2 separate regions of the Homo sapiens genome follow, and region 2 is linked to region 1. The links come from fine-mapping of genetic effects on gene expression. Tissue or cell type: prefrontal cortex. Region 1 holds a variant in brackets; the other region holds the start of a gene. All regions are shown on one strand. Distances are between the middles of the regions.

Evidence for each region. PIP is the estimated chance that this variant, and not a neighbour inherited with it, causes the effect.
Region 2: LINC01409 starts here. The variant in region 1 is fine-mapped to the expression of LINC01409 in prefrontal cortex (CommonMind, PIP 0.95).

Annotation. Positions count from the first base shown.
Region 1 is chr1:815,087-820,236 of GRCh38, reverse strand. FAM87B (family with sequence similarity 87 member B) reads right to left here and starts at 2,866. Exons shown (of 2, transcript NR_103536.1): 1 at 2,035-2,866; 2 at 403-1,514. RefSeq lists an enhancer at 2,752-2,851. The variant G/C (reference allele first, on the strand shown) is at 2,143.
Region 2 is chr1:775,690-780,839 of GRCh38, reverse strand. LINC01409 (long intergenic non-protein coding RNA 1409) reads right to left here and starts at 2,042. Exons shown (of 6, transcript NR_187359.1): 1 at 1,748-2,042. LOC100288069 (a long non-coding RNA gene) reads left to right here and starts at 2,206. Exons shown (of 20, transcript NR_168328.1): 1 at 2,206-2,556. RefSeq lists an enhancer at 1,920-2,489.

The DNA of each region.
Region 1 (5,150 bases):
CTGGACAAGCAGGTATTGTAGATAGGGCAGATCTACTGGAAAAGCAGGTAGTGTAGACAGGGTGGATATGCTGGCCAGGCAGGTAGTGTAGACGGGGTGGATCTGCTGGAAAAGCAGGTAGTGTAGACAGTGTGGATCTGCTGGAAAAGCAGGTAGTGTAGACAGTGTTGATCTGCTGGACAGGCAGGTAGTGTAGACAGGGTGGATCTGCTGGAAAAGCAGGTAGTGTAGATAGGGTGGATCTGCTGGCCACGCAGGTAGTCTAGACAGGGTGGATCTCCTGGAAAAGCAGGTAGTATAGACAGGGTGGATCTGCTCGACAGAGGGAGGTGTCACACCCCAGGTGGGGCTGAGTGGGACGGCATGAGACTTCATCAAGCTACTCAGAATGAAACATGATTTAACACGTGTGTATTGTTTATTTCTGGAATTTTTCATTTAATGTTTTTGGACCATGACTGACTGAGAGTAACTGAAACCTTAGAAGGCAAAACAGTGGATAAGAGTGACTTGCCGACCTGAACAGTTTGCTCTTAGAAACTTTGTGTGGTTGGTTGTCTGATCTGTGACTTCCTTTAATTCACTTCTCTGAGTTCCTTAAAGGTAGGAATCATGTTTTATTCCTCTCACAGCCATATTTCCTTAAAAACTAGTTGGTGAACCGTGGAAAATCTAGATTGCTCAGGCCGCCTTCTGCCAACAGAAATAACGTTGCCTTTCAGCGGTGGTTTGCTTTTCTGAAATTTTCGGTCATCACACCCTTTAGAAGGAACAACTTTAGAGAATAAGACTGGCCGGTATGCAACTCCCAGAATTTTCTCAGGAATGTTTCAAAAATCTATTGTTATTCTGGATACTGGTGAACAGATGCGCGAACGGCTCAGGCTCTGCCACTGGCCTTCTCCATGACTGTGTTTGTAGGGACAAAGCATGGTAGCAAACAACTTCAAAAAACCTCTGTGGCTTGAAAACACAAAGTTTAATCACTTGTCCATGCTTCTCTTCCACTGCAGGCTGGGGGTAGCTCCTGTATCCTCAGGCCCAGGTGAGATAATTTTCCCATCCTGAGCACTGCCAGGCTCATGGCAGAGGGGAGGGTGCAGGAACGTTGTGCGGCTTTTAAAGTTTCTGCCAATAAGGGGCAGAGTCACTTCCATTCCGTTCCATTGGCTGGGCCTGACCACGGGACAAGTAGCAGAACCTTTCCATCCAGGAGAAACAGAGAGTGTCTGGAGGAAGAATACACACTGTCCCCAACTCCCAGAGTTAATGCTGTGAATTCATCAACAGGATGATACACTTGCCTCACTGGCTTTTTGTTCCAATAGACAGAATCATAGAGTCTTGTTGTGCTGAGAGCCTTGTAGGTCACGCAGTCCAGGGATGCAAAATTAGAAGACAATGACGAGGTGCAAACCTGAGAGTGGAGGCGAATGGAGTCCGGAGGGCGGGGACTGCAGGCCGAGCACACACCCCACCGGGGAGCAGCCATCTCAGCTGCAGCCGACGTTGCCCTAGAGAGATGAATGCAGGCCCAATGTTGGCAGCTATTCCAATGTGAAAGAAACTAAAAATCCAGACTTTTATGTAACAATATTCTAATATTTACAACATTAATCAGCTGGGGGAAAAAGTGTCCACAGAACTTTTGCAGCCTGTGAGCCACCCATTTCTACCCAAATTCAGCCCAAACCTCTAACTGCACAAGCTCACACAAATAGAGAAAGCCAGGAAAAGTATCCAGAACTCCACATGCACTTCACTACTCACAGGGGCCTCCAGCCCTGGTAAGCATGGGAACCACACATGTAAACACTGAGGTGCCCTGCCACGCCAGTGAAGTGCATGCTGCTCGTGTGTGACCCATTTTTAACCCCTAAAGGCATAAAACACGAATACTGTGAATTCAGTTAATAAGTTGAATTTACACCAGTCCTTCCTGATACAGCCGAATCAGATCTTTCCCATTATTCACTCCTCAGTATATCACCCCTTCTGTTGAACAGAAATAAGTAAATATTTAAAATTTCTTACCCAGGGGTCAGCAGATTATGATCCAGAGGCCAAGCCCAGCCCGTCTGCTTTTGTGTATAAAGTTCTCATGGAACAGAGCTGTGAGCCTGCCGTGTGTGGTCTACGGCT[G/C]CCCCTGGACACAGCTGCAGAGCTGATTCCCGCACAGACCTCGGGGCCCACAGAGGGAGGCGCCTTCCCGCCATCATCCCCACTGAGCACCAGCCGCCGCAGCCGCTAAAACCTGCGGAACTCACTCCATGCCCCTTGTTGGCTTTCTTCACATAAAGTGGATAAAACTGGGTGTTTACAGCCTAAAGCAGCCCATGCCAAGGCAGTCCTCAGGGACTGAGCCTTAGTCACAGTCCTTGTGACTACAGCACGTCCATAGATGAGAGCTGGCCGAGGGATCCGTGTGCCTCCAGCTTCTCGGAGCTGGAAAGAATCCATACTGGAAAAGTGTTCCTTCAGTGCTCCTCCTTCTGGGAAAAAAAGACGGGGAGCTACATCAACCTTAAGGGTTAATGTTGCTTGAATGTAAGCATAATAAATATTCAGCATGTCTCCTAAGACCTGGAGTATCATCAGAGACCAAGCTTGGAAAACCACAAAGAATGACGCCCAGTTTCTAAGAGTCATTCCGTGCTTTACAATCAGCCCACAACCACCGAGTCCCAGGAAGCCCAGCCGAGACCGCGGCAGGTCCTGACGCAGCATCAGCCTGAGTCTGAGCCCAGAGGAAGCTTCTGCTGCCACAATTGCTGCGTGTGCTCATGGCTTGGGTGCAGGCCCAACCACAGCGGACCAAGGGCAGGCTGAGATTTGGCCTGGACTGGAGGGCTGTCTCAAGGAGGGTGACGTGTCTTTGACTTTTGCATTCTTCCCTTTTCCTTTCTATTCTCTTGGTGACGTGAACACAGACAGAAAGTGAACGTTTTTTGCATAAGTTCCCTGTAGATTCTGGATATTAGGCCTTTGTCAGATGCATAGTTTGCAAATAGTTTCTCTCATTCAGTAGGTTGTCTGTATTCTCTGTCAAACGTTTCTCTTGCTGTGCAGAAGCTCTTTCATTTAGTTAAATTCTACTTGCCAATTTTGTTTTGTTGCAATCGTTTTTGGGAACTTAGCCAAAAATTCTTTGCCAAGGCCAACGTCAAGAAGAGTATTTCCTAGGTTATCTTCCAGGATCTTACAGTTTGAGGTCTTACATTGAAATCTTTAATATATTTTGAGTTAATTTTTGTATATGGTGAAAGGTAGGGGTCTGGCTTCAGTCTTCTGTATGTGGCTAGCCAGTTATTCCAACACCATATATTGAATAGTATGGTCTTTTTCCACTGCTGCTTTTGCTGGCCTTGTCAAAGATTGGATGGTTGTAGGTGTGTGGCTTTATTTCTGAGTTTTCTGTTCTGTTCATTGGTCTATGAGTCTGTTTTTGTACCAGTACAGAAGCTGTTTTGGTTACTGGGGCTGTATAGTATAGTTTGAAGTTGAGTAGTGTGATGCCTCTGGCTTTGTTCTTTTTGCTTAGGATTGCTTTGGCTATTTGGGCTCTCTTTTCATTCCATATGAATTTTAGGATAGTTTCTTCTTGTTCTTAAATGCATTTTATAATTAACTTGTTTAGCTCTAAGAAAAAAACTTGATTTTGTATTGGAATAGCATTAAATTTAATATTTTTAAAAAATGTTTCATCTACTTCTAACTTACTGCAAAGAGTTTTATAAAGTTGCCTGTAATGATTTTTTAATGTTTTTCTTCATTTTTATAAAGGAAACATCCTTGTAACCACACCCAGGTCAAGGAATAGAACTTTATCAATCATCCCAGAAGCGCCCACCACATGTCCCATTTCTATTATAACCTACTTCCTCTCCCCAAAAATAACCACTTCCCAAACTCTTATGGTAATCATTTCCCTAATCTTTATAGTTTTATCACCAAGTGTATATCCCTAGACACTATAGTTTAGTGTTGTTTTATTCTTAAAATTTGATATGTTTTTAAAGTCTCTTTTAATCTACACGTTTTTCTCTCTATCTCTTTCTTTTCCTTATCTTTTACAATGTTTAAATTTTCTTCTGTTAGCACTTGTAACTTTCTTATTTTTTTTTTTTTCTAATCAGATACCTAGTGGTTTGTTTTGGTTGATTATTTTCTCTTGAGAGCCAGCTTTTGGATTTACTTCTTAGTTCTATTCTTTTTCTACTTAATAATATCTGCTTTTATTTGTAATAATTCACCCCTTTCTTTTGGTTCACTTATTCTTTTTCTGGCTTTTTCAGTTATATGTTTAAATAATTTATTTTTATTATTTAAATTTGTATTGATATAGGTATTTAATGCTATAAAGTTTCCTGTGACAGTTACTTTTTTTCTGAGTCCTATAAATTCTCTATATATTTTCCCAGCCTTTTATAGCTGTATATCTTATATGCAGTATGGTGTTTGATTTTGCTTTGTGAGCCAATCCAAGACTGTTTTCCATTTAATAGGTGAGCCAAGTCCATTTTTTACATCACAGATAACAGGGAACCACCTTGTTCTATTTTATTTGCTTTTACCCTTTTGGTATTTAAGAGGGCTTTCTTCCTCTTTTTTTTCCACTTTTATCCTAATGCCTTTATAGCAAACACTTAGTTTCTTTGGTTGGCTCCCCATAGTACCTGATACTGCAGTTAGCTGATGGACACCCCAGTCCCAGTTGGCCCCTGCACATCTTCTGCCCGCCCCTACCACTTCTCTGGTGGTTGTTCTTTGTCTGCATTGTCCAAGCTGGTAACCATGGCATGCTGCACTTTTATCACCGTCATGTGCCAGCAGCTCCACAGATAAATACAGACCACCTGCAGCTCACCTTTGCATCTGCCTCTAGTCATTTTGGTTTCCGGAGCTTATTCTTTAGTGGGTCATCCCTCAGCTCCTGGTCACCGTACTTCCTGTGTTTGTGTGTACTCATAAAAAATATGTGTGACTTTTACCCTTGATAGTCACTATTTAGATGTTAAATCTTTGGCTTATATTTTTTCCCTTAAATATCTTAAATATGTTACTGAACCTATTCTATTCTGGACCTGTAATCCCTACTACAAAGCCACTCACGAGTCCAGTTTTCATCATTTCTGATTTTACAGACATGC
Region 2 (5,150 bases), 39 kb after region 1:
GGTCTCGCTGTGTTGCCCAGGCTGGAGTGCAGTGGTACGATCATGGCTCACTGCAGCCTTGAACTCCTGGGTGTGGTGGTGCACACCTGTAGTCCCAGCAACTCTGGCAGGCTGAGGCAGGAGAATCGCTTGAACTCAGGAGGTGGAGGTTGCAGTGAGCCGAGATTACGCGACTACACTCCAGCCTGGAGACAAAGTAAGACTCCATCTCAGGAAAAAAAAATTTTAAATTAAAAAGTTCTAGTATCTAAAATGAGCAAAATCGCCAGGCGCGGTGGGTCACACTTGTAATCCCAGCACTTTGGGATGCAGAAGTGGGTGGACCATCCGAAGTCAGAGGTTGAGACCAGCCTGCAGTGAGCCGAGATTGCACCACTGCACTCCAGCCTGGGAGACAGAGTGAGACTCCATTTCAAAAAAAGAATTAGCCAAGCGTGGTAGCATGCACCTGTAGTCCTAGCTACCGGGGAGGCTGACGGGGAAGGATTCCTTGAGCCCGAAGGTCAAGGCTGCAGTGAGCCTTGTTTGCACCACCTCACTCCAACCTGGGCAAGACCCCATCTCAAAAAAGAAAAAAAACCCACAAAAACAAAAAACAAAACAGAACAGAACAGCATCACTTCCTTATCATTAGTTTGAAGGAAGTGAATTGCCTGTAAAAGTTTCCATTTTCAAAAAAAGTGTTAAAATATAGTGTAAAGCCAGGCACGATGGCTCATTCCTGTAATCTCAGCACTTTGGGAGGCTGAAATGGATTGCCCCTGGAGGTCGAGGCTGCAGCTGAGCGATTCTCCCGCCTAAGCCCGGCAAGTTGCGGAGACTACAAGCGCGTGCCACCATGTCCAGCTAATTTTTTGTATTTTTGTAGAGAAAGGGTTCCACCATGTTGCCCAAACTAGTCTGGAATTCCTGAGCTCAAGTGATCCACCCACTTCCGCCTCCGCCTCCCAAAATGCTGGGATTAAAGGCGTGAGCCACCGGGCCTGGCCCAATTACTTTCTTCAGTCTGAGCATGAGTGCTGGAAGAAAAGCTCTCACTTGCATATAATTTTTTAGAGACAGAGTCTCCCTCTGTTACACAGGCTGGAGTGCAATGGCGCAATCTCAGCGCATTGTAACATCAACCTCCAGTGCTCGATCGCTTATATAATCTCAGCTCACTGTAATCTCAACCTCCCGGGCTCGATCGCATATATATACACACATATATTTGTTTGTTTAGACGGAGTCTTGGTCTGTTGCCCAGGCTGGAGTGCAGTGGCGCGATCTCCGCTCACTGCAACCTCCGCATCCCGGGTTCAAACAATTCTCTGCCTCAGCCTCCCGAGTAGCTGGGATTACAGGCACCTGCCACCACGCCCGACTAATTTTTGTGTTTTTAGTAGAGACGGGGTTTCAGTGAAACCATGCTGGCCAGGCTGGTCTTGAACTCCTGTCCTCGTGATCCACCCGCCTCGACCTCCCAAAGTGCTGGGATTACAGGTGTGGGCCACCTCGCCCAGCCGACTGCTTATATTTTTAAAAAGATGTTTTCTTCATTTCCTAGCCCCTTCTACCCCGCTACAAGTTTCAAAGACTTAATGCTATTACAAAGGACCGTCAGAGGTCAAGCTCAGGGGTGCAACTCCCTCATGCCGGGCAGCCTCAGGGGGCCGACCCTACCCAGGATGAGCGGCGCCAGGTAGCCGGGGACGCTCCCGGGGATCCCCGGGCCCTGGCTGGGGGAGGCGTTGTGGAGCGCACGTACCCAGGCTCAGATGAGGCGAGTGGGCGGCCGGGGCTGCAGCTGGCGCTGGCCATTGAGGAGCTTCTGCGCGACAGTGCGATCGGTTGCACCTTCTGCGACAGGTGCCGGCCGGTTGGCGCGCAGCGCCTGCTAGCGCAGAGTCTGGCCCTTGCTGCGCCCGGCGCCGAAGACCGGGAAGTCGTAAAGCTCCTCCTCGTGGCTTATGTGCGGCGGCGGCCGGGCAGAAGCCTAGCGACACAGAACTGCCAGCTCAGCAGCCGGTTACATCCCGCCCGGCCACCAGTAGGCAGCGTCCGCTCATGCGCGCTCCTGGAAGAACCAGCAGCCCCCACCGCGAGTTCTGATTGGCTCTGCGTGAGTGGTAGTCCCCTGTGACGTCACAAGGGTGCGCCTTCCGTGACGTCACAAGGGCGGGTCTTCGCCGACACCATAGAGGTGGGCCGTTGGCGACGTTAGAGGCGCGGGTGTTCGGCTACATCACTGGGGCGCCATGGTGCCTGGAGCTGGGCAGTTTTCTCATCAGAGTGGGGACTGGTAAGAGTGACCTCCCCGCCAGGTTCTGTGTGTTGCCGGCTGAAGAAGGGTAGCTGAAAAATTCAGACCCAGCACAGTGTTTATGTTGGTCAAAAATAGAAAACTATGTCTGGCGCGGCCGAGGCGGGAGGACCCTTCAGGCCAAGAGCAGCCTAGCAACATGGCGCAACCCCATCTCTGTAGTCCTACCTCAGCCCCCCAGCTACTTGAACCCAAAGGTTCAAGGCTCCAGTGAGCTATGATCCCACCACAGCATTCCAGCCTGCGAGATTGAGGTAAACCCTGTCTAAAAAAATTTAAAAAACTATCCAGGTGTGCAACAGGGAGGGACTGCTAAATAAAACATGAGGCTGGCTGGGCCCTACTGTAATCCCAGCACTTTGGGAGGCCGAGGCGGGAGGATGGATGGCTTGGGCTCAGGAGTTCGAGACCAGCCTGGGCAACATGACGAAACCCCGTCTCTACAAAAGATACAAAAATTAGCCGGGCGCGGTGGACACCTGGCCTAATTTTTGTATTTTTTTCTAGAGATGGGGTCGGGGGGTGCCTCGCTATGTTGCCCGGGCCAGTTTCGAACTCCTGAGTTGAAGCAATCTTCTCACCTTGGCCATCAGAGTTGTCGGGATTACAGGCGTGAGGGACAGCGACCCACCTGGGTTAGGCTACTTAATAACATAAAGTGCTCCGCCAGGCTCAGTGGCTGACACCTGTAATCCCAACACTTTGGGAGGCCGAGGCGGGTGGATCACCTGAGGTCAGGAGTTGGAGACCAGCCTGGCCATGGTGAAACCCAGTCTCTACAAAAAATACAAAAATTAGCTGGCCGTGGTGGCGCATGCCTGTAGTCCCAGCTACCTGGGAGGCTGATAAAGGAGAATTACTTGAACCCGGGAGGCAGAGGTTGCACTGGGCCAAGATCACACCACTGCACCCCAGCCTGGGCGACACAGCGAGACTCCAAAGTTTGACACCAGCCTGGGCAATGTAGTGACACCCTGTCTCTACAAAACAAACAAACAAAAACCCAGGCATAACTGTGTCCACCTGTGGCCCTAGCTAGTTAGGAGACTGAGGCAGGAGGATCACTTGAGGCCAGGAGCTCAAGGCTGCAGTGAGCTATGATAATCCCACTGCTTCCCATCCTGAGCAATAGAATGAAAGCATGTCTCTAGATAGATAGCTAGCTAGATAATTGATACGTAGTTTTGTATCAAATTTTTTCCCTAGATTTGAGCATGTTTTTCTAAAGTAGCATTCAACACATCAGCATTTTACAGTGTTATTATTTGTTAATATGATTATGTTTTTCTGAAATACAGTGTCCTTTACAAAAGCAGTTTTGTCTTTCAAAGCGCATAGATAAGGCCCTCAAGTAAATTTGTCTGATGTTGCCGACCTTGGTACCATTTTGTCCACTTGATTGAAAAGCCAGTCAATAATTTCAGGTCACTGTTGGCCTTAGAAGAAGAGCCCAAAGGCAACAAGCAAAGGCGCTGGTGTCCAGTCGCCTTCTAGAAGCATTTTCACTTTCCCTTAAGGTTTCCCTTGATGAACATAGAAGTACTGTATGTAGAATTGACCCAGTGCTGCCCTGGCAACTTTGTATATTAGGCCAAATTTACATTTCTTAGCTTTATGAGAGGCACCCTGGTAGGCTAGTGGAGTTACACACAAAGTCTGATCTCAGCTGCACTGTCCAGAAATGCAACACGGTCCAATCAAATAACATTCTCTGAGCCTGTTTCTTTAGCTGTGAAAGAAGAATAACATACCCATCTAAAAAGGCAGCTTATTGTATTTGATTGGTCTTTTATTTTCTATGAAACTGTGTTTAACACAGTAATTATTTTCATTTGTGTACTACATTTGTGTTGTGTTTTTGGTTTTAGTTTTGTTTTTGAAATGGAGTCTTTTTTTTAGTGGTTTTTTGTTTTGTTTTGTTTTGTTTTGTTTTTGAGATGGAGTCTTTCTATTGTCACCCAGGCTAGAGTGCAGTGGCGTGATCTCCGCTCACTGCAACCTCCACCTCCCAGGTTCAAGTGGTTCTCCTGCCTCAGCCTCCTGAGAAGCTGGGATTACAGGTGCCCACCACCATGCCCAGCTAATTTTTAAAATATATTTTTAGTAGAGATGGGGTTACAACATGTTGCCCAGGCTGGTCTCAAACTACTGACGTCAAGTGATCCACCCGCTTTGGCTTCCCAAAGTGCTGGGATTATAGGCATGAGCCACCGCGCCTGGCTTGTTTTAAAATAAGGGTTTCTTGGCTAGGCATGGTGGCTCACACCTGTAATCCCAGCACTTTGGGAGGCCAAGGTCAGTGGATCACCTGAGGTCAGGAGTTCGAGACCAGCCTGACCAATATGGAGAAACCCTGTCTCAACTGAAAATACAAAATTAGCCAGGCGTGGTGGTGCATGCCTGTAATCCCAGCTACTCAGGAGGCTGAGGAAGGAGAATTGCTTGAACCCAGGGGGCAGAGATTGCAGTGAGCTGAGATCGCACCATTGCACTCCAGCCTGGGCAATGAGCAAAACTCTGTCTCAAAATAAAAAAAAGATTTCTTAAAATGATATTTTCAGTATTTTATAGATGATGTGTAAGCAGCAAGCTTAATAGGATGTTACCCGACACTTTGCGAGACTGGCAGCTGATTTGATCCAGATGTCTCTAATTCTTTTTTCTTTTTCTTTTTCTGTTTTTTTTTTTTTTTTTTTTGACAGAGCCTTGCTCCGTCCCCCATGCTGGAGTGCAGTGGCAAGATCTCGGCTCACTGCAACCTCCACCTCCCGGGTTCAAGCGATTCTCCTGCCTCAGGCTCCCGAGTAGCTGGGATTACAGGCGCGCGCCACCATGCCCAGCTAATTTT